Regions from separate parts of the Homo sapiens genome. Here region 2 is linked to region 1. Evidence: fine-mapped expression QTL. A gene starts in region 1. The other region holds a variant in brackets. All regions are shown on one strand. Distances are between the middles of the regions. Region 1 holds the start of HNMT (histamine N-methyltransferase). Region 2 overlaps HNMT (histamine N-methyltransferase).

The links.
Region 2: its variant is fine-mapped to the expression of HNMT in whole blood (TOPMed, PIP 0.92).

What each region holds. Positions count from the first base shown.
Region 1 is chr2:137,955,622-137,971,432 of GRCh38, forward strand. HNMT (histamine N-methyltransferase) reads left to right here and starts at 8,852. Exons shown (of 6, transcript NM_006895.3): 1 at 8,852-9,007; 2 at 14,544-14,596. The coding sequence starts at 8,871.
Region 2 is chr2:137,988,511-138,004,321 of GRCh38, forward strand. It overlaps HNMT (histamine N-methyltransferase), which reads left to right. Exons shown (of 6, transcript NM_006895.3): 3 at 12,408-12,515; 4 at 13,554-13,684. Among named protein-coding and RNA genes, the nearest start is that of HNMT, 32 kb to the left of the region's middle. The variant G/A (reference allele first, on the strand shown) is at 8,294.

The DNA of each region.
Region 1 (15,811 bases):
GGGTAATTACTTTGATCCCCTTATGTTTTCCAAATTGTTAGTGCATCACAATGGTATAATCTATGCTTAGAAATGCAAAGTAGCTTTGAATTTGTATTAGGGAAGGAGGAGCACCAAAGAGTCAGAGAATGAGACACATCGAGTGCCAAATGTCTTACAAATGGCATCCTAATTCAAGCCTGAAATATGAGCCGTGTCTCTGATTAACAGGTGTAAACTCAAGTAGTCTTAGAATTTTAGAACTGGAAATGAATGATGGCATCTAGTTCTCTACATCTGAAGAAATTCAAGGCAACTGAATTAAGTGCTTGCTCAAAGTCACACAGGGAGTTAGTAAGCAGTGTAACATGGAGAGAAGCAGGAGCGGGAGTCGCCCATTAGTCCATCTTCTGACCCCCAGCGAGCACAGGAGGAGAAAGGGACAGACAGCTCTGAAATTCTCAGATCTGAAAAGGAATCCCATCATCATGGGACTCCTAATGACCTCCCATTATCAGGTGCCCGCTGATGAGTTTCCCAAAACCCTGATACATTCCCAAGAAATAGTTTTCAGCCAAATACCCTCATCAAACAAAGTCAGTCTTCTTTAAGAGTTCATGAGTACTAGCTCTCATTGACCTGTAGCTATCACAATAGACACCTTTTGTTTTCACTATTTTATCTGGCATTCAGTGAGTACTTAATACATTCTAGGTATTTTGCTTTATGCTTTTTTTTCTTTTTCTTTTTCCACTCACAACAAATTAATTTACTATAGTAGGCACTTGTTCTGGTTATTGACTGTTTGATGCTAGATACATTTCTGGTCCTTCCCATCCTCTACTAGGTACTTCAAAAAGTTGAATCCTACAAGTTATATCACCCATACTTCCTTGCCAACTGGTTTTCAGCTAGTTTTAGTAAAGTGGGAAAATTGGTAGAGATGAGGGGTCAGGAAGAGGAGACACTGGGTACTTTTGCCCATGTCCTGATGTTTCAGGCAGCATCCTCAAGAGCGCTTGTTCTACCTCCCACTATGCAGCTTGAGCTCCAGAACTTTGGTAACACCTGCTCCTACAGGTGGTACAGGTGGCAAGGGCATCCTGCCTTGAGGACTTGCTCACCTTCCTTGTTTGCTTTTCAGTTCTTCCAACACCTTTATCATGAGCTACCCATATTAAAAATTATCTCTGGAATCCTGGACAGAGATTTTGCCACTTGTATTGAAACCTGACTAATACAGCATTATTGTGTTCATCCCATAAATGAAGGAACTGAAAGTTAAAGATGTCAACCTCACACCAGAGAGTTTATTATATGCCAGGCACTAGGCTGAAAACCTGATACACATTATTTCTTTTAATCCTCACAAATTTTTATGAGGTAGGAATTATTATCTCTATTTCACAGGTGAGAAAATAAGGCTCAGCCAAATCATATTACAAGGCATCTCAGACAGGAGAATGTTCTAGCCCAGGAGAATGTTCTAGTCCTGGGATTTGATAGACTATATTTTTTGGTATATTGAGCAATTTTTTGGTATATTGAGCACATACTTCTTCACCAGATGCCAGAGAAGTTTGCTTACCACAACCCCTCTGTTTATAAAATTCCTTTTACATGAAGCTTTTCCCTTCACCAGATCCCCACCTCCACACTGGTGCTACCCCTTACGGTAGTCACTGAAGATTGCATCATCTGTAACATGGACAGTAAGACAAAAGCTCATTTCATGAATTGTATTATTGGATTTTGGTTTGATTTTTTGTTTTGATAGCTGTCCAGTTCTTGCTAATTTTCCAGGTTCTAAATACTTACTGACCTTTACCTTTGAGAGGAGATCTAGTACTTTCAAGGTGACAAAATTTTTTTTGATTATTAAAAGGAAAGTTAGTTCACAGACTCTTTCTTTTTTGTTGTGCCTTATTCTTTGTTCACATCCTTAAATATTTCAAAATAGCTTTATATCGCTAGAATTTCACTGATTACTCTTTATGTCTTTTAACAGGATTTGTCTGTCCATCTGCTCTCTTCCTTCTCAATTAATTATCCTCCAAGTATTTTGTCTCTATCACAAGATGGTTTGGTTTGTCCCTGATTGGGTATTTTGGGCCTTTCCTTTCTTAAGTTAATTAAAACAAAACTATTATAAACTCCACATTAATAAAGCATAATTGAAACAACTAAGTCATTAATAGTAACAAGATACATGGCATTATTACCAGCTGTGTGACCTTAAGCAACTCACATTGGTAAATTTGCCTAATAACACGATGTCAAGGGGCTGCTTACCCAGAGACTATCTTTAGGTTATCATTTATGATTTATTGACAATCTTTAGATACAGTGGCTCTACTAGCTATGAATATATATACAACTACTTTTAGTTTCACAAGCCCACAAAAATTTATCTTTTTAAAAGATGGAAGGCATTTAACTAGAACTTCAAGAAAACTTAAAGATCATCTCACCTCTCATCTTTCCACATTTTTTTATATATGGAAAAAAAAGTTTAGAGCAGATTTACCTAGTAAGAGGCTAGGCTTGTATAGCATTCCATTTTCTTGCTTCTTATTTCCATATTTATGAGAAACTTATCTAAGTCTCCTGTAGAATGTAAGATTCCTGATGCCTATTATATTTGGCTGAAATTACCAGTCTAATCAAGCTCTAAAATTTTATGTGCTATAATTCCAATCCTTCCTTTGAGACCACACTTGGGTCAATCTTCCTGATAACTTTCAAATAAGCTAGCAGATCAAGTAAATCAACCAATTTGTATAAAATACGTCTTCCTCCATTCTTGTCAAGTGAAAAGAAAATGTGATTCTTTGACCTATTTGACTAAGATATTTTAACAATATTGCTGTTAACATATACCTATGTAGTATGCTACTTAGATGATGGGACATAAGAATAAGAAGCTAGACCAATGAGCATGGTGTTCAGAAGACTAAAGACCAGGATGAATAGAAATATCTGAACAATGCTGTGTAGAAGAAAATGGGTCCTGAAGACTTTGCTACTGTTTTTTCTTCTCTTTTGTTCATTTGTTTATTTTTTGGTATACCACATACAGAAGAAGAAAAATGAAAAAGGGAAAGCCTTTGTTTTTTGACCTAGCACAGATGGTGTTCTATTAAAAGGTGATAGAAAGAACACAGAATTATTCCACTTTCTCTTTGCTTCTATCTTTCTCTTTGCTCCTATATTTTGCTCCAAAACAATCTTCATATTGGAAAGACACAGAGTGGTGAGAGGTAATATGGCATAATTTTTTAAATGAGCCTTGGAATCAAACATTAATTTGGACCGAGGCTCTTCTCTTAGGAGTTATGTGGTCTTAAACTATTTATCTGCTCTGAGTCTCACTTGATGGTGTCAATAGTTCCATCCCCCAGAGTGTTAGAAGTATATAAGGTGCTTTGACACAGTAACAGCTTAATAATTGATATATAATAGGGGATGGATGCCCAAAATAGGTAAGAAAATAAATAAGAATTTTAAATTAGGCAATAATTTAAGGTCTAAAAAAATTACATTTCAATGTGCTGAAAGAACTTATAAAAGTAATACTGATGTCACTGCTGGTAACTTTTGAAAAGTCATGGCAAATGATAGATGTGGTAGATTGTTGCTTCAATTTTCCAAAAAAAAGGGAAAAAAAGATTTTCAAGATTCAGTAATTCCAACCAGCCAGCTAGAAGGAAATTCCAGATGCAGTATGGATTATGAAACAGATATTCTATATGCAATTTTAAAAGGAAGTTGTGATTGCTGAAACCAGCACTTAATCAAACACAAAACATGCTGAAAGCAACAAGATTTCCTCTTTTTTTTTTCTTTTGAGGGGCTGCAAGACTAATCAGAGAAATGTCATCGCCATGATATATTTGCATCTGAAGAGGACATGTGACAAAGGTTTTATGAATCTTTAATATACTAATGTGCATTATGAATATCCAGAGGAAGCTACTGAATTCAGCACTTTTTAAATTATTTGACCATGGAACCCATTTTTTGCAGAGTAAAATCTGAAAGAAGTTGGGTTGGGCATAACTTTGGGAAACACTAGTATATGCCTGGAAAATAAATCTCCACTTTTTATGTAGCTTTGGGGATATTGTGTTTATTTTCAAACATCATCTTTTAAAGGAACCCAGACAAACTAGAATCTTTCCAAAGGAGGGGCCAGAGTAATGAATTATATAATGCTATATTGTAGAATAAATAGTTAGGAACTATAAAAGAGACACCTGGGGAGTAAGGTTGTCCTGACAGTTGATTTCAAGTTTCTTAATGGTTGTTATATGGAGAAAGAACTGGATTACTTCTGTTTAGTTTAAGCAACCAGAAATAGGAGTAGTATCTAAGAATTATAGGGCAGCAGGTTTTGGCTGAATAAAAAATTGTTGTGAGAGTGCTAGTCCTGGGGTTTGACAGACTATAATTCAACAGCAGTCCTGCAGTTTTTGGCTAGGCAGCTTAATCTCTCAGAAACTTGGTTTTCTCATTTGTAATAGGGGGAAGCTGATGGAGGTACCACAAAGAGTAAATCCTACATTAAATTTGAAAAGATCTGTACAATTCCTGGCACATAGTAAGTGCTCAATAAATGGAATTCTGGTGTTATTGGTAACATATAGAGCTACTCAATAATGAAAAGGATGGAGGACATCTGATAGCAGAGAACAACTCAATAGTGTAAATGTTCAAGCATATTCTTAATTATTTAAAAAAGAACTGAAAGTCTACTTCAGGCAACACATCACGGGAAGTAGCTGTGACTCAGTTCCTGTCTTTATGAGCTAAGTCACATGGGGACAAGCAGGGGAGTTAAGGCAAATATATTAAACAACAATAACACAAGGATGAATGCTTGCAAGAATCTCAGAAATTACGAGCGTGAGTGCTGATTATTTTGAGGGAAATATGGAAGGCTATATGAAAGTGGTAGCATATGAAGAATAGAAAATTTTTCAATGGATGCGGTAAGAAAGGAAGCAGCATGTTACAGAAGGGACTATTATGAGGAGATGCTGTAGGCAAAAAAGCACAGGAATGTATCCAGAGAAGCAGCACAGTTTGAAGGGGATATAAATGCAAACTAGAGGTAAATGAGACACAATTCTGGATAATTATTGGGGGGGCTACAGAATGGATCTTGTACTTGACGTGGGGGTCAGTGGGGAGACTAAATATTATGAGAGAAAGAAAAGAGTGTCTTTATCCAAACTTACTTAAAAAAAAACATGAAGTTGACAGTGGCAATAAAATTGGTTAGGATCTGTGTGATTCCTAAAGCAGGAAAGCCAATAAAAAAAAAAACCACACACACTATAGTATAACTGGCCAGCCAAATGCAGAAGGTTGAAACCGCATCCCTTCTTTACACCATATATAAAAATTAACTCAAGATGGATTAAAGACTTAAATATAAAACCCAAAACTATAGAAACTCTGGAAGACAACCTAGGCAATACCATGCAGGACATACACATGGACAAAGATTTCATGACGAAGACACCAAAAGTAATTGCAACAAAAGCAAAAGTTGACAAATGAGATCTAATTACACTAAGGATCTTCTCCACAGCAAAAGAAACTATGAACAGAATAAATAACCTACAGAATGGGAGAAAATTTTTGCAAACTATGCACCTGACAAAGATCTAGTATCCATTATCTATAAGGAACTTAAACAAATTTACAAGAATAAAAAAAAGACATGAAAAAGTGGACAGAGGACATGAATAGACACTTTTCAAAAGAAGACATACATGCAGCCAACAATCATATAAAAAAAAGCTCAACATCACTGATCATTAGAGAAATGCAAATAAAAACTACAATGAGATACCATCTCACACCAGTCACAGTGGCTATTATGAAAAAGTAAAAAAATAACAGGTGCTGGCAAGGTTGTGGAGAAAAGGAAACACTTATACCCTGTTGGTCAGAGTGTAAATTAGTTCAACCATTGTGGAAGACAGTGTGGCGATTCCTCAAAGACCAAAAGACAGAAATCCCATTCAACCCAGCAATCCCATTACTGGGTACATACCCAAAGGAATATAAATTGTTCTGTTATAAAGACACATGCATGTAAATGTTTATTGCAGCACTATATGCAATAACAAAGACATGTAATCAACCTAAATGCTCATCAGTGATAGTCTGGACAAAGAAAATGTGACATATGTATATCATGGAATACTATGCAGCCATAAAAAATATGGGATCATGTCTTTTGTGGGGACAAGGATGGAACTGGAGGCCATTATCCTTAGCAAACTAATGCAGGAACAGAAAACCAAATACTGCATATTATCACTTATAAGTGGGAGCTAAATAATGAGAAAATATGGAAACATTAGATGGGAACAACACACACTGGGGCCTATTGAAGGTGGAGTGTGGGAAGAGGGAGAGAATCAGGAAAAATAACTAATGGGTACTAGGCTTAATACCTGGGTGGTGACATAATCTGTAAAACAAGCCCCAATAAAACATGTTTACCTATGTAACAAATCTGTGCATGTACTCTTGAACTTAATTTTTTTTTAAAAAAAAGCACAATAAGTGAAAAATAAAGAGAATCTCAAGTAAGGTGGAAACAGTGGAGACGGAAAGGAAGTCCTCACTGGGATCCACATGAAGAACTGGCTCTGTTGGAGAATATTTGACAGCAGGCAAGGGAGGTGATGGTCTCAGAAGACCAAGTTTCAGTTAAGGGAGGCCTTAACAGCAGCTTTCCAAGAGAAAGTCATGTCAGGAGTATTCCTCAGCAGAATAGCAAACAGAGACTCTTACTAAACTTTTATTCAATAGATGAATACATTATTGGCCATTTTTGGTTTTGGTTAAAGTGAAACAAAAACAGATAGATGTTACACATGAATGAATGAATGATTTGGGTTGAGCTCTAAAGAGAAAAATGGAAGATGGTAATAGAAGCAAAAGTTTGTCAGAGCCCATCTGAGGAAAGGGAAGGCTGGTTGGATAGAGATGTGAGTAAAGAACCAGCAAAGACCTTATCTAAGGATGAGTGAAGGGCACAGGAGCTAAATCAGGGCTTGGCCAAATAAGGCCTGTGGCCAAACCCAACCCTACCAACCTGATTTGTGCAGCCCATGAGCTACCAATAACTTTTATGTTTTTATATGGTTAAAGTAAATTCAAAGAAGGATAATATTTCATGACATGTGAAAATGATATGAAACTCAAATTTCAATGTCCGTGAATAAAGTGACGACTGTTTTTGTCATTTTATATATATATATTTTTTTTGCAGAGGGACTGGCTTGCACTTTTTAAACATTAGTTATATTATTCTCAGTACAACCCTATAAGATAAAATTCATTCCCATTTTACTGATGAGCAAACTGCAGCTTATGTTTCAGCCAAAGTCAGACAGTTCATTAAGGGCAGAGTCATCCATGGCAATCTGCCTGTCCAGATATTACACTTTCCCCCGGGGTAAAAGCACTGGCTCTAAGAATAGTGAGAACAAAACATACTTATAAAAGGGAGTTGGGGGCTGGGAATGGTGGCTCACGCCTGTAATCCCAGCACTTTGGGAGGCCGAGGCGGGTGGATCACTTGAGATCAGGAGTTCGAGATCAGCCTGGCCAACATGGTGAAACCCTGTCTCTACTAAAAGTACAAAAATTAGCCAGGCGTGGTGGCGGGTGCCTGTAATCCCAGTTATTCGGGAGGCTAAGACAGGAGAATCACTTGAGTCCAGGAAGCGGAGGTTGCAGTGAGTGGAGATCGCACCATTGCACTCCAGGCTGGGCGACAGAGCGATACTCTGTCTCAAAAAAAAAAAGAGAGTTGGGAAGTGTTTTGAATGCTTAGAGGGCAGCTTGGGAACTCAATTAGAAGAAGGGACGGTTTAAGCAGACATATTTCTAAGAGACTTATATGAGTTAACTCATTTGATCCTCAGCACTCCTCCATGAGTTGGATGCTATTATTAACAACCCAATATTAGATAAAGGATGACCTTCTTAAAGACCTCTTCCCAGGAAAAAGACTGTGTGTGGGTACTCTGAAGCTTTGGCTCTTCTGGTGGGGACACCACTGGGTTTCCAAAGGCTCATCCAGCCAAGCGAAGTATCTATGACCTCGTCGTGTTCAGCGCGCTTAGGGAAGGATTCTATGGACTGCACTTTTACCCTGGTGTCCTGCATTCTTGCTCCAAGACTTCTCTTACCACTCTCATTCCCCTAAATGCAGCTTCTGACACCTTCTAGCTACGAGTTCTTGGGCTCCTCCTTCGTGACTTCCTTTTAAGATAATTTCTGAGTTACAACAAATCAGCATTTGAAGAAATGCAGCAGATAAGTTGAAAATTCAAGTGCTGAGGAATGTAAAGGCCCAAAACAATCCCGTAGAAAGCACAGAGGCAGATGACAGTCTTCCGTTAAAGATTTCACTGCTGTAGATTTCTGAGAGTGCTGTGTAGCTGTCCTCTTTATCCTGGTGTTTGCCACTTCGAACAGTCACTTTCCCACTTGGAACTTACTTGTGGCTTTGCTGACAAAACAGGAAGTGATTTGAATACAGTTTGTTTTTATGACCTTTCAACCTCAGGAATTTGAAAAGTTTTAGCAGTGGATTTACAGCCTTGCTTAATACTTCTATTTCTTACAAAACAACCGTATAGGGGTTAAAGTATCAGTGCAAAGTCCCGTTCAAATATTGACTCAGTAATGAGCTCTACAAGCCAGCCTTTGTGGCATGTTAAATTCAAAACAAGCTTAGCATTTTTTTTTTTTTTTTTGGATAGAAACTGGTGGGGGTGGGGAAAGAAAGAGGGAACTGGGAAGAGAAGGAGGGGAACTTAAACCTTGCTTCCTGCTCTGTCTTTCTCAGAAAACCAAATATGGCATCTTCCATGAGGAGCTTGTTTTCTGACCACGGGAAATATGTTGAATCTTTCCGGAGGTTTCTCAACCATTCCACGGAACACCAGTGCATGCAGGAATTCATGGACAAGAAGCTGCCAGGCATAATAGGAAGGTAACAAAAGGGACGTTGTTGTCAAAGGGACAAGCCTCAGACTGGCTGTGCGTCAGTGATAGATGGGTCTCGCTCAGCCTCGCAGGCTGGGCACAGGGATAAGGGCGAATTACTGATAGCAGCTCCCCGTCGTCCCCTCCTCGCTGCCCTGCCCTGCCTTTCTCCTGCAGTGCTTTGGTTCCACGTTTGCTTTGAACACTCAAAGGCTCCCATTTGTGTTGTATTTCCAGCTGCATAGAGATAAGCGTTAACCATTTGAAGGCACAAATCCATGTTCATTTGGGAAAAGATAAGATGCTAATCTTCGAACTCAGATTTTTCAGCCCTCCTCCAAATTTTACATCCCAAAAAAGTCCCAAAGGGAGTCTGGTATGCTTTTCATTAGAATCAAATATAAATAATTGCCAAAGTACGATTTGCCCTGAGGATTGAGTGCCTCAGTTCTCATAATATCCATTTAAATTAATTTTCCTTATCCATTGTTATAGTTATCACTCTCTTCCTCAAAATTGTCTTTTTCTTTCAGCTTAATATTAGCAATGTGTTCCTTAAAAAAAGAACCATTTTCCCATTATCAGTGAAACTCACTGGTTCCTATCCTTCTTGCAGAGTTCTTTTTTTTGGGTGATTAATGTGTTCAATTTGTGCCAGAGCTGATAAGCATTATGAGAGTAACAGATTCCACATGCTAAAGATAATCAAATCACCTATCTGGGGGTGATTTGCTGTAACTCATTCTACTTCAGGAAATAATAATGGAAAACTGGGAAGAAATGACTATGGATCCAATTTGCAAACAGCAAAGGAAAGTGGTATTTTATCTTTTGCTGAATTTCTCTATTGCAGGCCTGAAATTCTTTCACCAGGGCAGTACCTATGTCTGACCAGAGCAGGCATTATTAGATGTACATAAAATTTTATTTCCTTTTCTATTTAACATGATTCAGATTTTAAATGTTAGCTTTCAAAAAATAGGATATTATATATTAAAAATTAATATGTAATAGGATAAGGATGCAAACATCAAAGCAAATAGCAAATATAGAGAACTTCTTACCTAGGAACTAATTATAGTTAACCTCTTTGGGTTTCTTTGCTCATTTCTAAAGTTAAAGGTAATGAGTTAATTTCTCAATTCTTTTTCAGTACTAAAAGTATTTGCTCATGTCTGTAGCTTACCAGATCCTTGGTTTTCTTCAGCCATACACAGTTTGGTTTGAAGAGGTACCGTGGATGGAGATAACATAATCGATGATGAATGACCCCTTCCTTATCTTCAAAGTTTAAATCTAACTGGAAATATTATAAAATCTGTGAAAGACTGAAGAATTTTTAAGGGCACACTGTTTGTCTTATAACAGTAGTATATAGTTAGGAATGATCAGATTCAGTGTCATTTATTTTTTTCCTGAAGGTAATGTTTGAAATAAGATTTAGCTGAAGGACTTTTAAAATTGTTACTTAGAGTTGTCTATAAGTTATGAAGTACCAAAATGTGATTAGGATACTCTTTGTGTATGTTAGGGCAGGGTTTGTTGAGTTTGTGGCTCACTGTGCTAATTGAGTGTGGAGCGAGCCTATTAAATTTTTATTAAAGCAAGACATGCCATATTTTAAAACATCAAATGGTTCTAAAGTGTGTGGGGACTATAACAAACCCCACCCACTCCATTCTTGATTCCCACTCTCCGGAAGCAACCACTTTCAGCACTTTGAAATCTTTTAGTTATTTATGGAATTTTCTTTCATAATTCAAAATAACATGTTATTGTTCTATTTCTTCATTTCGCTGTATTAAAATAGCTAAGTAAGCATGCATATTTCCCACCCTATCATGTCACTATATGTAGTCAAAATTTTGGTTAAATAATTTGAGTGTTTATGTTATTTTGCCTATGTACATATTCTTAATAATTGAGCAATATATTCGACTATGCTTATATTTCCTTTTACGTACAACTTTTTGTTCTCCCTAGAGTTGACTATTGCCTTGATTTTGGTTTCTTTTCTTAGTTCTCCATGTACCTATTACTATTTTGATCCCCAAGCAGATATATTAATCTCCTCTCAATATATGCAAACATATCAAGGAATCTGTTTATTTTACCCCAAGGGAACAACTTTTCTGAAGCCCTCTGTTCTTTTTTTCAGTTTAGGAAGATCTGCTTTGGCCTGCTATACAACTATTAAGGAGGGAATTTATTTCACTTTCTGAGAATCATTTTCTTTCTCCATTATTTGATTCCCTGATTCTATATCTCATGCCTTTCTTTTCTTTGTTTCCTCGGTCCTTTGTTTCCTGAACAATTCTTTAAGAACTTTAAGAGTGAACGAGAGGTAAACTTTTTGAGACTTTGTATGTTTAAAAATCCCTTGGTTCTATGTTAATCGTTTGACTGGATATAGAACTCTATACTGAAAATGGTTTTGTATAATAGATCTAAAGGTACTTTTCCACTGTCTTTTAGATACCAGAATTGCTGTTAACAAATAAAATACTGGCCAGATGTGTTGGTTCACGCCTGTAATCCTAGCACTTCGGGAGGCTGAGGCGGGAGGATTACTTGAGCCTAGGAGTTTGAGACCAGCCTGGGCAACATAGCAAGATCCCATCTCTACAAAAAAGTGAAAAAGTTAGCTGAACAAGGCGGCATGCACATGCTACTCCAGACGCTGAAGTGGGAAGATCACTTAAGTCCGAGAGATCGAGGCTTCAGTGAGATATGGCTGAGACACTGCTCTCAGCCTGGATGACAGAGTGAGAACCTGTCTCAAACAAGAGAAAAAAATAAATCAAATGCTACTCAAAATTCTCATCCTTGGCATGTGGAATAACTTTTACATTGCTATGTGTTTTGTTTTCCCTATTTTGAACTTTTTAGAATCTTCTTACGTCTAGTATTCTGAAATTTTAAAATACTGAGCTGTGAAATGGTTCCTTTTTACCCATTTTATGGGTACTCCCTGGGCTATTTCAATTGAGATTCAGATCCTTCAGTTATGCGGAACTTTGGTAATCATTCTTCACCACTGTTTTCTTTTTCTGGAACTTTTATTCATCAAATACTTCCTGGATTGATTACCTAATTTTCTTATATTTCCAGTTTGCTACAACTTTCCTCTTTCAGCCCATGTATTAACTTTTTACTATTATATTTTTAATTTCCAAGAATGTTTTCTATAGCATTCTTTTCATCATTCCCAGATGTAATACCTTCTTATTCATTACAAAATGTTCCTCTGCTCTCTCTGCCTCTTTCCATCTCTGTTTCTTATGTTAGACAGCTCCCCAACCACCTAAAGAGCCTTGGTTTTCTATTCAATCAAATAATGAGGCACTAAAAGGTAGTCAGATTCTCTTTGTGTAAGTCAGGGCAGGGTTTGTTGAGTGAGTAGCTCACTGAATAATTGAGTGTGGACTCAGCTCTTTCCTGGGAGATCCTCAGATATAAAATCATGTTAACTTTATCACTGAGATGATTTGTTTCCCTATAGAGGAATTCTTCAATCCCCTATTTGAGGGTAGATGGTGGGGCAGGGCTTGGGGGCAGGAAAAATTATAGTAAATAACTATAAATAGTAAAGTTGGTTATTGTTGTTGCATATAAAACATTTAAATCCTTGGCTAGAAAATAGTAAGTTTTCAATAATTATTTGATGTCATTATAATATGTGAAATGGGATGAATAATAGTATCTAACTCATAGAGGAATTTCAAGGATTCAAAGAGTTAATTCACATAAATCACTTACATGTACCTAGAATCATAATAATTGCTAATATATGTGGAGTGCTTGTCATGTGCAGATACATTTCTAAGAGATTTGCATGAATTAAATCATTGAATCCTCACAACTTCTCCATGAATTAGAAACAGTTATTAATAATCCTACAAGAGAGATGATATTATTATCTTATTTCACAGAGATGTCAAATAACTTGCTCAAGGTAACATAACAGTAACCTGGGATTTCAACTTGGGTGCTCTGCTTCATAGCCTCCCTATGCTGTCATAGATGTAAGCATTTTAAAGAATGAACAAAAGGTGTAGATAGAAATGGATGTGTTAGGACTCAGGATTATGAGTTGGAGGATAATTAGAATTGAAGAAGGCAAATCATTTATAGGTGTTCTCGACCCTAGACTTTGCAAGATTCCTTTAGAACCTTACTTCAATTTTTGTTCCCATCCTGTGACTGAGCAGGCTTTTTGCACTGTAGACAAAACACAGTTTTGTTTGCCATCCCAAAGTCCAAAGAAACAAACACCATCCTTTTCCCTTCATGGTTCTCCTACAGCAGTCATCTCTTTTCCTTCTCTCTTTCACCCTGTTTCAACAGACTCTAGATCTGCTTCCTCATTTTTGAGCTCAGTTTTAATCCCATTGCCATCTGACTTCAGTCTTCAATCTTCTTTTACAACTGCCATTACTAAAGACACTCGTATTGCCAAATTCGATGGAGATTTTTCCTTTTTTAAGTAGTACACTCTGCTGCTTTTGCCATGACGACGGGCTTTCTCTGCCTCCAATTACTCTGGTACCTCTCTGTGCTTTATTTCTTTTCTTCTCTGTCTTCTTTGTATATTCTTCACAATCCAGTGATCTTTAGAAGTTGGTATTGCATCACCATCCACTACTACTATAACTCTGCAATATCTTTGGGTGATGGAATCTACTTTTCTAGCACTGACCATTACTTTATGATGATGATTCTCCAGAATACATCATTGACCCTGATTTCTCTCCTCCCAGCTTAAATCTTGCAAATCCAAATGTCTGCTGAATTCGTATTTATTTTTTTTAAAAGCCCTGACAAAACATAAGCTTGCTGCCAAACTGTATTTCTCAGCTTCCTTTTTGGCATCACCCTTTGCCCAGTCATCCAAGCCTGAAACAGGGAAGTCACTGTGCATTCATATTTTTTTCTGACCTCTTCACATCAATCTAACAGCAAGTCCTACTGGCTTATTTCCCAATCTGTCCACTCCACTCTATTTCTAGTACCTGAGTCATAATTCGGGCTTTATTATCTCACATTTCATTTTGAGAGCAAAGTGATATCTGTTTTTTTAATGCCTAGGATAGAATACACATAATGCATGTTTAATAAACACTTGTTCATTAAAAGGAAGGTTAAAAAAAGGGGGAGGAAAGAAGGCAAACATTATAGATAGTGGGAACCAGCTGAGCCTTTCCTTTATCTACGATGAGTGGCTTATTATATGACTAGACTCAAAACTCCACTTTTTCTGTTCTTGTTCTCCAAGCCATAACCAAACAAATGGCATTTTGTACCTCTGATATGTACATACTGCCATTTCCAAGTCTCCCAGTTAAAGATTGTTAATGAATAAAACCTATATTTTGAAATATACTCTAAAGATGGCAATATAACTGATATAATTGGGACATTTCATGTTGGCCTAGTTTTCATTCATTGTATTTTTAGTCTGTTCTCTTCAACTAGACTAGATAATCAGATTTCACAAAGCACCTAACACATTTTTCTAAAACTACATAATTTTTTTCTTTCAGGATTGGAGACACAAAATCAGAAATTAAGATTCTAAGCATAGGCGGAGGTGCAGGTATGAGTAATATATTTTTAAAGTTCATATTTCACTTTAACCATTATGCTGTGTGATGACAATATTGTTCATTTTTTAGGAAGACTTTTTTTTTTTGCTTTTGGAAGAGATCGGCTTATTAAAACTAGCAATATTACTTCAACTAACATTAATGCCCCCATAGATTTACAGGGTTTAGGACATTAGCCTTCATTACTATCTCTATTGTGAATAAGTGATGTGACTTGTTCTTTTGATAGATGAAAAATCAAATAGGATAACTTTAAGGATAACTCTTATCCAAAATGATTAAAATACTCACAGAAAAGGAAAATCTCATAATAAGCTTCTTAAGTTTGTGCCATTTAAAACCTTGTTCATGGACTGGTTACTGTTTTCAAACTGTTATTGGTCCATGTGAAGATCTGAAATGTGCACAGGAGGCTGGGCGCGGTGGCTCACGCCTGTAATCCCAGCACTTTGGGAGGCTGAGGGGGGCGGATCACGAGGTCAGGAGATCGAGACCATCCTGGCTAACGCGGTGAAACCCTGTCTCTATTAAAAATACAAAAAATTAGCCAAGCGTGGTGGCAGACGCCTGTAGTCCCAGCTACTCGGGAGGCTGAGGCAGGAGAATGGCGTGAATCCTGGAGGCGGAGCTTGCAGTGAGCCGAGATCGCGCCACTGCACTCCAGCCTGGGTGACAGAGCGAGACTACGTCTCAAAAAAAAAAAAAAAAAGAAAGAAAGAAAGAAAGAAAGAAAGAAAGAAAGAAAAAAGAAATGTGCACTGGAATATAAACTGATGCACAGCTTTTTTCATTGAGAAAGTCTCACCATGGGGAAAAATGTGCTCAGTGACAGAGTTAATTTACATTCTTGTGAACTCATTCTTTGAGTGGCATGGGCCTAATCTGTTCCCTTCCTCTTACTCAGTTCCAAAACTGAATGCTTAGAATTACCTCTAGCATTCAGATAACTCCTAAGCACCTTTTTTTTTTTGACGGATTCTCACTCTGTCGCCCAGGCTGAAATGTGCAGTGGTGCAATCTTGGCTCACTGCAACCTCCACCTCCCGGGTTCAAGCAATTCTCCTCCCTCAGCATCCTGAGTAGCTGGGATTACAGGCACCAACCACCGCACCTGGCTAATTTTTGTATTTTTAATAGAGACGGGGTTTCACCATCTTGTCCAGGCTGGTCTCAAACTCCTGACCTTGTGATCCACTCACCTTGGC
Region 2 (15,811 bases), 33 kb after region 1:
ACAAGACTATAATATGACAGATCTGAACTATTGACCCCCCTTTTTTTTAAACAGGCAAGAGGATTATATACATCTTTTTGTTGGCCGGACGTGGTTACTCACGCCTGTAATCCCAGCACTTTGGGAGGCCAAGGTAGGCAGATCACTTGAGGTCAAGAGTTCGAGACCAGCCTGGCCAATATGGTGAAACCCCGTCTCTACTAAAAATATGAAAATTAGCCTGGCATGGTGGTACGTGTCTGTAATCCCAGCTACTTGGGAGGGTGAGGCAGGAGAATCGCTTGAACCTGGGAGGCAGAGGTTGTAGTGAGCCGAGATTGCACCACTGCACTCCAGCCTGGGCAACAGAGCAAGACTGTTTCAAAAAAATAAAAATAAATATTTTTGTCATTGTTGTTTTATTTTAAAGAAAGGTTTTTTAAAGGAAGTTTAGGGTTTGCAGATAAATTGACAGCAAGGTACAGAGATTTTCCATACAACCCCTGCTCTCAAGCATGCATTGTCTCCCCATTATATATATATTCCCTCCCAGAATTACAATCTGCTACAATTTATAAACATCCATTGACATATAATTACTAGAAGCTCATAGTTTACTTTAGGGTTTCCTTTTGGTGTTGTATTCCACGGGTTTAAACAAATGTATAAAGACATGTATCCACCATTACAGTATTATACAGAGTAGTTTTACTGTCCCCGAAATCATCTATGCTCCACCCCTTCACATCCACCCCTCAGCCCCTGGCAACCACTGATCTTTTCACTGTTTCCATAATTTTGTCTTTTCCAGAATGTCATCTAGTTGAAATCACACAGCATGTAACCTTTTCATATTGGCTCCGTTCAGATAGTAATATGCATTTAAGTTTCTTCCATGTCTTTTCATGGCTTAGTAACTCATTTCTTTCTTGTACTGAATGATATTCTATTGTCTGCATGTACCACAGATTCTTTGTTTGTTTGTTCTTTTACTTATCAGTTTATATGCTGAAGGACACATCTTGGTTACTTCCAAGCTTTGGCAATTATGAATAAAGCTAATAAACATCTATGTGCAGATTTTTGTGTGACTGTAAGTTTTCAACTCCTTTGGGTAGAAACCAAGGAGCTTGATTACTGAATCATATGGTAAGGTTATGCTTCGTCTTTTAAGAAACTGCCAAACTGTATTCCAAAGTGGACCCAAAGTTACCTTTCCCACCAGCAGCGAATGAGAGTTCCTGTTGCTCCATATCTTTCCCAGCATTTGTTGTCATTAGTGCTCTGGATTTTGGCCCTTCCAGGTGTGTAATGGTATTTTGTTAATGTTTTAATTTGCATTTCATTGATGGCATATGATATGAAATATCTCTTTATATATTTATCTGTCATCTGTATATCTTCTTTGGTGAGGTGTTTAGGTCTTTGGCCCAATTGTTAATTGGGCTGGTTGTTTTCTTATCGTTGAGCTTTAAGAGTTCTTTGTATATTTTGGATAGTAATCCTTTATCAGATATGCTCTTTTCAATTATTTTCTTTCATGCTTGTCATCTCATTCTCTTGACATTTTCTTTTGTAGAGCAGAAGTTTTTAATTTTAATAAAGTTCAGCTTATTAATTACTTATTTCATAGATTATGCCTTTGGTTTCTATTTAAAAAGTCATCGCCGTACCCAAGGTCATCTAGGTTTTCCTCTGTGTTATATTTTAGGAATTTTACAGTTTTATGTTTTACACATAGTTCTATGATTCATTTTGAGTTAATTTTTGTGAAGGATGTAAGGTCCTTGTCTAGATTCATTTTTTTGCAGGTGGGTATCCAGTTGTTGCAGCACCATTTGTTGAAAAGACTATCTTTGCTCCATTGTATTGCCTTTGCTCCCTTGTCAAAGATCAATTCACTATATTTATGTGGGTCTATTTCTGGTCTCTCTATTCTGTTCCACTGATCTATCTGTCTATTCTTTTGCCATTACCAGGCTGTTTTGATTCATATAGCTTTATAGTAAGTCTTGAAGTCAGATAGTGTCGGTTCTCCAACTTTATTCTTCTCTTTCCATATTATATTGCAGATTATGGGTATAAATTATTTTTTAAAAATACATGTCTGCTATTTCTGAGGGATACTGAAAAGCAAATCATGTAGAATACAATGTCAAGGAATATTTTATTTTATGATTTTATATCTTATGGATATGTATATATACCCACACATATTTATATGTACATACATATGTATATGTTCTGAGGGAAAAACTCAAACTTTTTCCTCTGCTCTCACACCACAACAATCAACACAGAAGACTTCTGTGACCAAATGCATGAGTTTTTTTTTTCTCCCAACACCAAGCAGCAGATACTTCCAGGTATCTTCCAATTCAATTCAATTCTGATGCTGTCTCCCTGAAAATAATGTCAGATCCCACAGGTTGAGGGCTCAGTCCCACAAAACTGTCCCCTTTCAGACACCAGTTGCAAGTTTGGGCCTCCAGAATTTCTCAGTAGCCAGCTTCAAGTTGAGGTTTCCACAACCCCTCTTTGGGTTTGATTAATTTACTAAAGTGGTTCACAGAACTCAGGGAAACTGGCTTAATTTGCTGGTTTATGATAAAGGATGTTACAAAGGCTACAGATGAAGAGATGCATAGGGTAAGGTATGAGAGAAGGTACACAGAGCTTTCATGCTCTGCCTGGATATGCCACCTGCCAGGATCCTACACATGTTCACTATCTGGAAGCTCTTCAAATCCTGTTCTCTTGGGCCTTTTATGAAAACTTCATTGGATAGGCATGACTGAAGCATGGACAACCATGTAGTAATGTGATTGGATGAAAAGGTTATAATCTAATGCTGATAGGCTGAGTGGGAAAACCCAGTGAGGCCTATCTGTTCAGATTCTTCTTGATCTCTCTGTGCAGCATTAATTCCTCTAGGATATGGGACAGGACCTCCTCTGAAATGAGGTCTTATGACCCTCAATCACAAAGGTGGAAACACGTTATAGTCCTGCCTTGTATAGGTGAAAGGTTTTCTGAGGTCTGCTCCTGAGGCCAAAAGCACCATAAAATTATAATAAAAGACTATTAACAAGGGCTATGGGAATCATAAGCCAGGAGCCATAGATAAAAACATATAGATATATAAAATAATATCACACACATATATCGATCTATGCATATACACACATTTCTATAAAGATACATATATGTATGTAAATAGATAGAAGTAGATATTTATATAGCTAGATATAGAAGTAGATAATTGTATTATTTATTACATATATATCACAATAAGAAATACTATACTTATTATAAAAATAACACAGGGCGGGGCCAAGATGGCCGACTAGAAACAGCAGCGTTTGGAGGCCCCCATTGAAAAAAAACATAAGCTTGTGAATACTTCACCAGCAACCAAGGCATCCAGGTTCTCTCATCAGAACTGACTAGGAGGTTGGTGTGACCCACGGAGAGAAAGAAGAACAGTGTGGTGTGGCAGCCCACATGAGAGCCACATGGAGTGGGGGAGCCCCCTCCCCCCCAGCCAAGGGAGGCAATGGGTGAGCGTGCTTTTTCCACAGAATTGTGCAACCCACAGATTGGAAGATCCCACTCGTGAACCCACACCACCAGGGACTAGCGTCCCAACCCAGGAATGCACAGACTCTTAGCTTCTCGGTTGGAAGGAATCTGCTTAAGCCTACGGAACTCCTGGAGGGAGGGGTGACCAGAACTGGGTGTGGCTGCCTGCTGTCAAAGCTATTTGAGCTCCTTGTGGGAGGAGCAGCAGCCAGTACTGGGATTTGCATCTGCCTAACACAAAGCTCCCTGGGCAGGGGAAGGGAGGCATCCATCTCTATAGCCCCAGGCTGTGCTTTTCCTCTGTTGGAGACAGGGAGGCTGGACGGCTTGGTCCCAAGACTTGTCCCTCACAGTCCAACACATCTGCTTGCAGTCTGTGGCCAGAGTGCCTCTTCAGGCCTGACCCTGACCCATCCTTCCTCATTGGGTGAGGCTTCCCCCACCAACTCCAGTAACACCAGCCAGAGGCTCAGGGACAGAACCTGCATCTCCCTGGTCCTGTGTCCCTAGGGGGAGGGATGGCTGCAGTCTCTGTGGACCAGCAGACTTAGCCTTTCCTCCTGGTAGTTCTGAGGAATCCAGGCAGCCCAGACAAGTGGGTTCCCCGCAAGTGAGGCACTGTGTTAAACAGGTTCTGTTCCCCATGCCACCCAACTGGGTGAGACCCTCCAATAGAGGTTGTCAGACACCCTATACAGGAGTGCTCCTACTGGCATCAGGCTGGTGCCCCTCAAGGTCAGAAGTCCCAGAAGAAGAAGCAGGCACTCATCTTTGCTGTTCTCCAGCCTCTTTGAGTGACATCTCCAGGCACAGCAGCGAATCAGATAAATAGGTCCTGAAGTGAACCCCCAGCAAACTGCAGCAGCCCTACAGAAGAGGGACCTAACCATTGAAAGAAAAAAAACAAGCAGAAAGCAACAACAACAGCATCAACAACAAGAACAACAAAAAGTCTCCACAAAAACTCCATCCAAGGGTCAGCAGCCTCAAAGACCAAAACTAGACAAACTCACGAAGTCAAGAAAGAATCAATGAAACAATGCTGAAAACCCAAAAGGTCAGAGTGCCTTTTGTCCTCCAAATGATTTCAACCTTTCTCCGTCGGGGTAACAGAACTGGAGGGAGGATCAGATGGACAAATTGACAGAAGTAGGCTTCAAAATATGGGTAATAAAAACCTACACTGATCTAAAGGAGCATGTTCTAACCCAATGCAAAGAAGCTAAGAACCTTGATAAAAGGTTAGAGGAATTGCTAACTAGAATAACCAGTTTAGAGAGGAGCATAAACAACATGTTGGAGCTGAAAAACACAGCACGAGAACTTCCTGAAGCATACACAAGTATCAACTGATGAATCAACCAAGTGGAAGAAAGAATATCAGAGTCTGAAGACAAGACTAGAGAAAAAAGAATGAAAAGGAATGAACAAAGCTTCCAAGAAATATGAGACTTCATAAGAAGACCAAACCTACAATTGATTGGAGTCCAAGAAGGAGATGGAGAGAATGGAAACAAGCTGGAAAACACACTTCAGGATATTATCCAGGAGAACTTCCTCAATCTAGCAAGACTGCCAACATGCAAACTGAGGAAAAACAGAGAACATCATTAAGATACTCCACAAGAAATTCAACCCCAAGACACATAATCATCAGATTGAAGATTGAAATGAAAGAAAATTGTTAAGGGCAGCCAAAGAGAAAAGCCAGGTCACCTACAAAGGGAAACCCATCAGACTGACAGACCTCTCAGCAGAAACTCTACAAGCCAGAAAAGATTGGGGGCCAATATTCAACATTCTTAAAGAAAAAAAAAATTCAACCTAGAATTTCATATCCAGCCAAACTAGCTTCATAAGCAAAGGAGAAATAAAATCCTTTCCAGACAAGCAAATGCTGAGGAATTTTGTTGTTACCAGGCCTGCCCTGCAAGAGCTCCTGAAGGAAGCACTAAAGATGGAAAGGAAAAGCCAGGAGCAGCCACTGCAAAAACACATCAAAATATAAAGACCAATGACACTATGAAGAAACTGCAACAACTAGTGTACAAAATAAACAAATAGCAGCATGATGGTAGGGTCAAATTCACACATAATGATACTAACCTTAAATGTAAATGAGCTAAATGTCCCAATTAAAAGACACAGTCTGACAAATCGGATAAAGAGTCAAGACCCATCACCCATCAGTGTGCTGTATTCAGGAGACCCATCTCATGTGCAAAGACATGCATAGGCTCAAAATAAGGGGATGGAGGAAAATTTACCAAGCAAATGGAAAGCAAAAAATAAGCAGGGGTTGAAATCCTAGTCTCTGACAAAACAGACTTTAAACCAACAAAGATCAAAAAAGACAAGGGCATTACATAAGGTAAAGGGAACAATTCAACAAGAAGAGCTAACTATTCTAAATATATATGCACCCTATACAAGAGCACCCAGATTCATAAAACAAGTTTTTAGAGACCTACAAAGAGAGGTATACTCCCAGACAATAATAGTGGGAGATTTTAACACCCCACTGTCAGTATTAGATCAATGAGACAGAAAATTAATAAGGATATTCAAGACTTGAACTCAGATCTGGATCAAGTGGACCTAGTAGACATCTACAAACCTCTGTACCCCAAATCAACAGAATATACATTCTTCGCAATGCCACTTGGCACTTATTCTAAAATCTACGACATAATTGGAAATAAAACACTCCTTAGCAAATGCAAAAGAACTGAAATCATAACAGTCTCTCAGACCACAGTGCAATCAAATTAGAACTCAGGATTAAGAAACTCACTCAAAACCACATAATTACATGGAAATTGAACAACCTGCTCCTGAATGACTCCTGGGTAAATAATGAAATTAAAGCAGAGATCAAGAAGTTCTTTGAAACCAACAAGAACAAAGAGACAACATACCAGAATCTCTGGGACACAACTAAAGCAGTGTTAAGAGGGAAATTTATAGCACTTAAATGCCCCCATCAGAAAGCCTGAAGATCTCAAGTTGACACCCTAACATCACAATTAAAAGAGTTATAGAGGCAAGAACAAATGAATCCAAAAGCTGGCAGAAGACTAGAAATAACTATGATCAGAGAAGAATTAAAGGAGATAGAGACCCAAAAACCCTCCAAAAAAAAAATCAATGAGTCCAGGAGCTGGTTTTTTGAAAAAATTAACAAAATAGATTGCTAGCTAGACTAATAAAGGAGAAAAGAGAGAAGGATCAAATAGACACAATAAAAAATGATAAAGGGGATATCACCACTGACCCCACAGAAATACAAACTACCATCAGAGAATACTATAAACACCTCTACACAAATAAACTAGAAACTCTAGAAGAAATGGTTAAATTCCTGGGCACATACACCCTACTAAGACTAGACCAAGAAGAAGTTGAATCCCTGAATAGACCAATAACAAGTTCTGAAATTAAGGCAGTAATTAATAGCCTACCAACCAAAGAAAGCCCAGGACCAGATGGATTCACAGCTGAGTCCTACCAGAAATACAAAGAGGAGCTGGTACCATTCCTTCAGATACTATTACAAATGATTGAAAAGGTGGGACTCTTCCCTAACTCATTTTATGAAGCCAGCATCTTCCTGATAACGAAATCAAGAAGAGACACAACAAAAAAAAGGAAACTTCAGGCCAGTATCTCTGATGAATATCGATGGGAAAATCCTCAATAAAATACTGGCAAACCAAATTCAGCAGCACATTAAAAAAAATTATCCACCACAATCAAGTCAGCTTCATCCCTGGGATGCAAGGCTGGTTCAACATACACAAATCAAAAAACATAATCTATCACATAAACAGACCGAAAGACAAAAACCACATTATTATCTCAATAGATGCAGAAAAGGCCTTTGATAAAATTAAACTACTCTTCTTGTTAAAAACTCTCAATAAACTAGATATTAATGGAACATATCTCAAAATAATGAAAGCTATGTATGACAAACTTACCCAACCAATATCATATTGAATAGGCAAAAGCTGGAAGCATTCCTGTTGAAAACCAGTACAAGACAAGGATGTCCTCTCTCACCACTCCTATTCAACATAGTATTGGAAGTTCTTGCCAGGGCAATCAAGCAATAGAAACAAATAAAAGGTATTCAAATAGGAAGAGAGGAAGTCAAATTGTCTCTGTTTGTAGACAACATGATTGTATATTTAGAAAACCCCATCATCTCAGCCTAAAAACTTCTTAAACTGATAAGCAACTTCAGCAAAGTCTTAGGATACAAAATCAATGTGCAAAAATCACAAGCATTCCTTTACACCAACAATAGACAAAAACAGAGCCAAATCATGAATAAACTCCAAATCACAGTTGCTACAAAGAGAATAAAATACCTAGGAATACAGCTAACAAGGGATGCAAAGGACCTCTTCAAGGAGATCTACAAAGCATTTTTCAAGGATATAAGAGAGGATGCAATCAAATGGAAAAACATTCCATCCTCATGGATAAGAAGAATCAATATTATGAAAATGACCATACTGCCCAAATTGATTTATAGATTCAATGCTATTCCCATCAAACTACCATCGACATTCTTCACAGAATTAGAAAAAGTTATTTTAAATTTCATATGTAATCAAAGAAGACCACATATAGCCAAGACAATCCTAAGCAAAAGGAGCAAAGCTGGAGGCATCATGCCACCTGACTTCAAACTATACTAAAAGTCTACAGTAACCAAAACAGCATG[G/A]TACTGGTACCAAAACAGATATATAGACCAATGGAACAGAACAGAGACCTCAGAAATAACACCACACACCTACAACCATCTGATCTTCAACAAACCTGACAAAAACAAGCAACGGGGAAAGGATCTCCTATTCAGTAAATGGTGCTGGGAAAACTGGCTAGCCATATGCAGAAAACTGAAACTCGACCCCTTCCTTACACCTTATAACAAAAATTAACCCAAGATGGATTAAAGACTTAAATGTAAAACCCAAAACCATAAAAACCCTAGAAGACAACCTAGGCAATACCATTCAGGACATAGGCATGGGCAAAGACTTCATGACAAAAATGCCAAAAGCAATTGCAACAAAAGCCAACATTTACAAATGGGATCTAATTAAACTAAAGAACTTCTGCACAGCAAAAGAAACTATCATCAGAGTGAACAGGCAACCTACAGAATGGGATAAAATTTCTGTGCTCTACCCATCTGACAAAGATCTAATATCCAGAATTTACAAGGAACTTAAATGAATTTATAAGAAAAAAAAAGCCACCCCATCAAAAACTGGACAAAAGATATGAACAGACACTTCTCAAAAGAAGACATTTATGTGGCCAACAAACATATGAAAAAAAGCTCAATATCGCTGATCATCAGAGAAATGCAAATCAAAACCACCATGAGATACCATCTCATGCCAGTCAGAATGGCAATTATTAAAACATCAGGAAACAATAGATGCTGGCAAAGCCGTGGAGAGATAGGAGCACTTTTACATTGTTGGTGGGAATGTCAATTAGTTCAACCATTGTGGAAGACAGTATGGAGATTCCTCAAGAATTTAGAACCAGAAATACCATTTGACCCAGCAATGGGATTGCTGGGTATATACCCAAAGGAATATAAATCATTCTACTATAAAGACACATGCATATGTATGCTCACTGCAGCACTATTTACAATAGCAAAGTCATGGAACCAACCCAAATGCCCATCGGTGATAGACTGGATAAAGAAAATGTGCATATACACCATGTTATACTGTAAAGCCATAAAAAAGAATGAGTTCATGTCCTTCACAGGGACATGGATGATGCTGGGAGCCATCATCCTCAGCAAACTAACAGGAACAGAGAACCAAATACCGCATGTTCTCATTCATAAGTGGCAGTTGAACGATGAGAGCACATGGACACAGAGCGGGGAGCAACAGACACCAGGGCCTGTTGGGGGTTGGGGTTGAGGGGAGGGAACACAGAAGACAGGTCAATAGGTGCAGCAAACCACCATGGTGCATGTATACCTATGTAACAAACCTGTACATTCTGCATATATATTCCATTCTTTCTCAGAAGAAATAAAAAAAAGCACAGAATGTAATCGCCTATGAGCACAGTGGTATTATTTATTGTCCAATGTAGGGTACTTTAGAGAATTAGTTGGAAAGAGTAGGTAAAATAATTAAAATTATTATAATTTTTGAAATTTGTATGCATTGAACAAATTTCTCATATTAGTAAATTTATGAAATGTTCTTTTTTAAAAACTACTTCCAAAACTAAAATTCTGCTAATGATATTTTATTAAAAATGAACAAGTTAGGACCAAAAAACGAAAGCAGATGGACACTAAGTCAACAGGTATAAAATGGAAATGTCCCTGACAAACAAGTATGGTCACCCTACTTATGAGGTCAGAAATAGATTTTACGTTCTAATTGACTCTTAAGGAAATAGTTGCATTATCACCTCTTCTTAAACTTAATTTATTTTTGTCAGGAATCCAGCACACATGAGCTTATACTCTAGAGGCTGTTATGCAAACCAATGGTTTCCATATGTCAATTGTGATTCTAGCATTGTGTCCTCTATCAGTGCCCCAGGGAGAGGGACTGCCTGGCTCTGAACATGTCCCAGACTGTGCTAGATATATTTTGCCAACCAGGCCAACCTGAAATGTCAAGGTCCATCTTTGGAGGAGAGCTCATCAAGCCCTGAGGGGATATAATTGCATTTCAGTTATCTTTTTCAAAATGTCGAATTTGAGATCCTCATAATTGATAATTTTTCATTTAAAATGTATGGCTAGGTTAATATGAGGCAAGAACAGAAAATTTTGGTCTCTAGTCTTTTGGGGGCAAGCTGGAATCTATTTCCCATTAGCCCACAGCTATTCTTACCAGCCTTTTGTCTTAGTTGTCTTTTTTTCCCTTCAGAATAGTTGCTGAACAGAAGAATAAAAGGCTTTTCATGTCTTTTTAGCATTTGTGATCTTTCTACTTCTTAGTTGAATGAGTTAGAAGAATAAACATTGTAGATTTAGACAAATGTGACTTAAACTTCAGGTATATCAATATCCCTTGAATGTCAACATACTCAAATCACCTAATCCAGTTGGGAATATTAATAATATCATGGAACTTGCTGTCAGGATTAATGAGATGTTCCAGGTAAAAAGCCTAGCACAGTGTTTGGCAAATAGTAGGTGGCCAATAATAAATGGCAGCTATAGTCATCAGTGAAGAAATACATGATTTCAAGTAGGTAGGGCTGGCTGTGAAGAAAATTGTCACATAAGTGACTTCATACTCTATTTCAGCTTCCTTCCCACTCTCCCTCCTTCCCTCCACACACACCATGTACGCCATCTCCTATTGTCAGTACTTGGGACTCTCATATGCACCTGGACCACTGTCTTTTCCCAGTCTAGCATCTTCTGTTCCTGGTTTATCTTCCTCATCTCTTTCCTTCCAGACCTCCCAGTCTTATGACCTCTGCTTTTGCTTCCTGCTATGTGCAGCCTTGGAAAGTTTCTGCTAATGTCATTTATGCCAAATGTTAAAGACTAACATCATTTTCCTATGCTAATCTTGCCAGGAGGTATTTCCATTTTAGTGAAGGTCAACATCATAACCTAACTGAATAAAAGTGCAAAACATAAGTTGGAGGCATCAGCAAGAGGGAGAGAAGAGATATTTTCAAATAGATGTACTCAAGATAACAATAAAAATAATGAACAGCTAACATTTATTCACTGCCAACTTTATTTTGCACTGTGCATTATATGCATTACTTCATTTAACCCTCACAACTAATAAATTAAGTACTATTATTATTTTTATTTTTCTAATAAAAAAAAAAAAGAAGCTTGGAGAGGTAAAGCAAATTGCCCAAAGTCGTATACACCGAGTAAGTGAAGAAGACAGGTTTAAAACTCAAGTCCATCTGACTTATTGTCATCTCTCTTACACTAACCCTTACAGGCTGAATTTTCACCAGGGCAGGGATTCTTGCTTGGAAGTCCTGCCTTGCTCAATATTCTAAGAAATCTAGACTGCTAGTAGTTCCAAATATACTCTTTTATTTTCTGTGTGTGCATCTGTCATCTTGTCCCCTGTACCTGCAATCCCTCACTTCCCCACAGTTTCTGGGCTAACTCCCACTTACCCTGGGAGTGACAGAGTTCATGAGTGATCTTCCCCCATGAAGCATCATCACTCTGGCATCATCTCTCGTCCTCTCCCCATATGTTCTCTTCCCTCTTCCTACCTTGATTCAACTGAGCCAGGGCTATTTCTGTGTCTGTGAACAGGTAATAGTGTTTATGAGGGCAGATATCTGACATGTTTTTCTTCTTTATTTTACCTGACATATGCTTGTACCCTTTATTTAATCTGACATTTTTTTGTACTCTTCTGGCCTAGCCTACTCTGCCAGTTCTGAGGTGCATTTTTTTTTCGTATTTTAATACCTCTGATATTGTTATGCTCTCCAGTTGATAAAAATCTTAAAATTTTAATTGACAGTGGCTTTTTTCTAACTTGGTGAAACAAAAATAAGGGTTAATTTCCTTCTACAATCAACAGCATCTTTGATTTGATGAAATATAGTGATAGATGTTAAAGATCATGTAAACGAATGGATGGCACTCACAGCCCTCCTTGAGTCACATTACTATGCCTACTTAGAACCTAGCTGCCCTGCATCATGGCAGGGCAGCAGTTGAACATTATTCTTTATTTATGTTAGGCTTTCCTAGTAAAGGTAGGGCAGATAATAAATCAGCTAAAATTGTTTTTAATCATTTCTTGCTGGAATGATGTGACCTGTCCCATATGTTTATCTTCTAGGTGAAATTGATCTTCAAATTCTCTCCAAAGTTCAGGCTCAATACCCAGGAGTTTGTATCAACAATGAAGTTGTTGAGCCAAGTGCTGAACAAATTGCCAAATACAAAGGTACCTGTAACTCCTGGTCCTCTACACCAGATCCTATCCCAAAAGACTTAACTCAAATTGTTCCCTTGAATGATTAAAAATATAGTTACTGTGGTATGCTTTTCACAAGCTTATTGGGAGAAGAACTGAATTAGTTCTTGGCAGGCATGACTAAACATCTCAAAATGTGAACAGTGAATAATAAACTCCCTTTTCTATTAACACTTCATCCATTCCCCAGTTGTCATCAATGATTACCTTTTGATGTTTATGCTTAAGTACAGATTCATTCATTGATCCAGAATTATTTAAACCAACCTTAAAGAGCTTATGTTTAGTGGGTTACAGTAAAAGTTCACAAACTTTTCCTGGCAAAGGCCAAATAGTAAATATTTTAGATTCAGAAGGTCAATTCAGTCTCTGCCATAACTAATCAACCTGCCATGTGCCACAAAGGCAGCCAAAAAGAAAAATAGGTAAACTAACAAGCATGGGTGTGTTTGAATAAAACTTTATTTGTAAACACTAAAATTTGAATTTCATATCATTTTCACATATGAATTAGCATCCTTCTTTTGTTTTTTTAAATCATTCAAAAATATAATGACGTGAAACATGAATGGCAGTGACACAAAGTCAGGAAGTAGAACGATATATGTTTTTAGCTTGCGGTTCATACAAAAATAAGTAGCAGGCTAGATATAGTCCCTGGACTGTAGTTTGTCTTCTCCTGAATTATACAAACATATCTGTTTCCAATTCACTTTCCATTGATAAAATTCACCAGTTGATTCTTCATTAATACTAAGACAATATAACCTATTCTGCCCAGGGTTCTTGTAATTATTTCTTCCTGACTCTTTCTTTCACCTCTAATTTCATTAAATACTAGAAACCAAAAAAAGCAGTATGAACTCTCTGGTCTCCCAGACATAAGAAAGAAAAACGTTCTTTCTATCTGTTTGTATATAACATTGATTGCATTAAAATTCTAAATGGAAATGGTTTCCACATTTGCAATTAAAATTGATGGTGTGTCACCTCTTCTCTGTATTTTAGAGCTTGTAGCCAAGACATCGAACCTCGAGAACGTAAAGTTTGCTTGGCATAAGGAGACATCATCTGAATACCAAAGTAGAATGTTGGAGAAAAAGGAGCTTCAAAAGTGGGACTTTATTCATATGATTCAAGTAAGAAATATGTATTATAATATATACTCAGAAAGAAGACTTTTCAGAATATATATATAATGAATATCTACTATTCTAATTTTTAAAAGGTAAATGAAAATCTTCTGATTTCTAATTTTACAAGTGACCATGATCTGCCCAAATAAAAGGTAAAGATGTTTATTATACTAAGATTCTCTTTAACATTCCAAAAACCAGTTTTCTCTAATCAAAATACCTCTACAAGTTATCCATTTTTAAAAATGTTGGCTTAATTCTTATTTCTTTTTTGAGATGGGAGTCTCGCTGTGTCATCCAGGCTGGAGTGCGGTGGCATGATCTTAGCTCACTCTAGCCTCAAAATCCTGAGCTTAAGCAATTCTCCCACTGCAGCTTCCTGGTTAGTTGAGACCACAGGTGTGCACCACCACACCCAACTAATTTTTTATTTTTTGTAGAGATGGGGTCATACTATGTTGCCCAGGCTGGTCTTGAAATCCTGGGCTCAAGTGATCTTCCCTCTTCAACCTCCAAAAGTGTTGGAATTACAGGTGTGAGCCACTGCACCCAGTCTTTAATTTATTTTTATATCATTGGATGTTTATATAGAGATTTGAGAATGATAGCATCATAACATATTCTCTAGTGGCTCTAATGGTTTGGGTGGACCAATGTCCCAGAGTGTTTCTGTAGTGGACATATGGTCGAAGGGGCAGGTTAAATGATGCCTCAGTTCAATAAATTTTTACTTCCATTATCCAGATCCGACAAACTGACTCATACATGTTATAGAAAGGGAGTGACGCAAGAACAAAAAACCAAACACCGCATATTCTCACTCATAGGTGGGAATTGAACAATGAGAACACATGGACACAGGAAAGGGAACATCACACTCTGGGGTCTGTTGTGGGGTGGGGGGAGGGGGGAGGGATAGCATCGGGAGATATACCTAATGCTAGATGACGAGTTAGTGGGTGCAGCGCACCAGCATGGCACATGTATACATATGTAACTAACCTGCACATTGTGCACATGTACCCTAAAACTTAAAGTATAATAATAATAATAATAAAAGAAAGGGAGTGACTATTGAGTAGATAGCATGGGGCTGGATTTCCAGAGATAACTAACATTTCTGAATAGCATAAGGGATGTATGGGTTTTGGAAGTTGGTTACCAACGGGAAATGTACGTATTTTGGCAATACCACTTGATTAACGACAAAACACTATTTTTCTTCCTGGTCTACAATGATAATCACCCCAAAAGAATAAACTTACAAGAAGTCAAAGGAAGAAATACTCCAATTGTGTCATATACAGGCAATTCTATGTCTCTGCTTCTTTAGCTGATGAAATCTTTTGCCTGTCAGGTAGTACTTATCACTGTCCAGGATGCCAAGATATTTCTCTACCAGACTTGCTTTTGTTCCCACTTCCTCACATAACTATTTCATAACTCCCCTGTCTCCTTACCACTCCTGCAATCTCTCCCAGACCATTCGTTCTGAGCCAATGACCTCACTTCATAATGTATAGAGAAAATAGAAACTGCCAGATACTCATTTTTTACCCTCTAACTTTGCAAACATAACTGCATTTGTGCATCATCTCCTTCTTCCATCTTATTGCAAAAACCTCCTCTTATCAAAAACCACTCCCTCTGCTTAACCCTGGATCCCATTCTTTTCTCTGTTATAAATATTGTGATTTCAGGAATCAGCTTCTCTTTCCTATTTCTCTTAAAACTTCCATGTTTGTTCCTTCTTTCTTATAACAACTCTGTTTCCCTCTGAATCTCTATCCTGTTCCTCTCTCTCCATCTCTGTCTATGCCCCATTTTTCTGTGCAGCGTCTCTGCCTCTCTATTACTCATTATAGTCCTCACACTCTTATGATACTTTTACAACCTCACTGTCAATTCAGAAAATTTCACTGTCTTTGAGAAAAATTTAAGGTATCTTCTATGGCCCACTTCCACATTTCTAGCCAGGTCATATCGTAGATTGTTAGCCATCATATTGATTCACTATATTTGGGTACCTGCCTATGGTCCCTGTGGTGGAAAATGTGGAGTGTGGCCCCTAAGGCACCATGAGCCATGCACAGGTCAGGTCCATTTTATTTCATTCATTCATATGAAAGA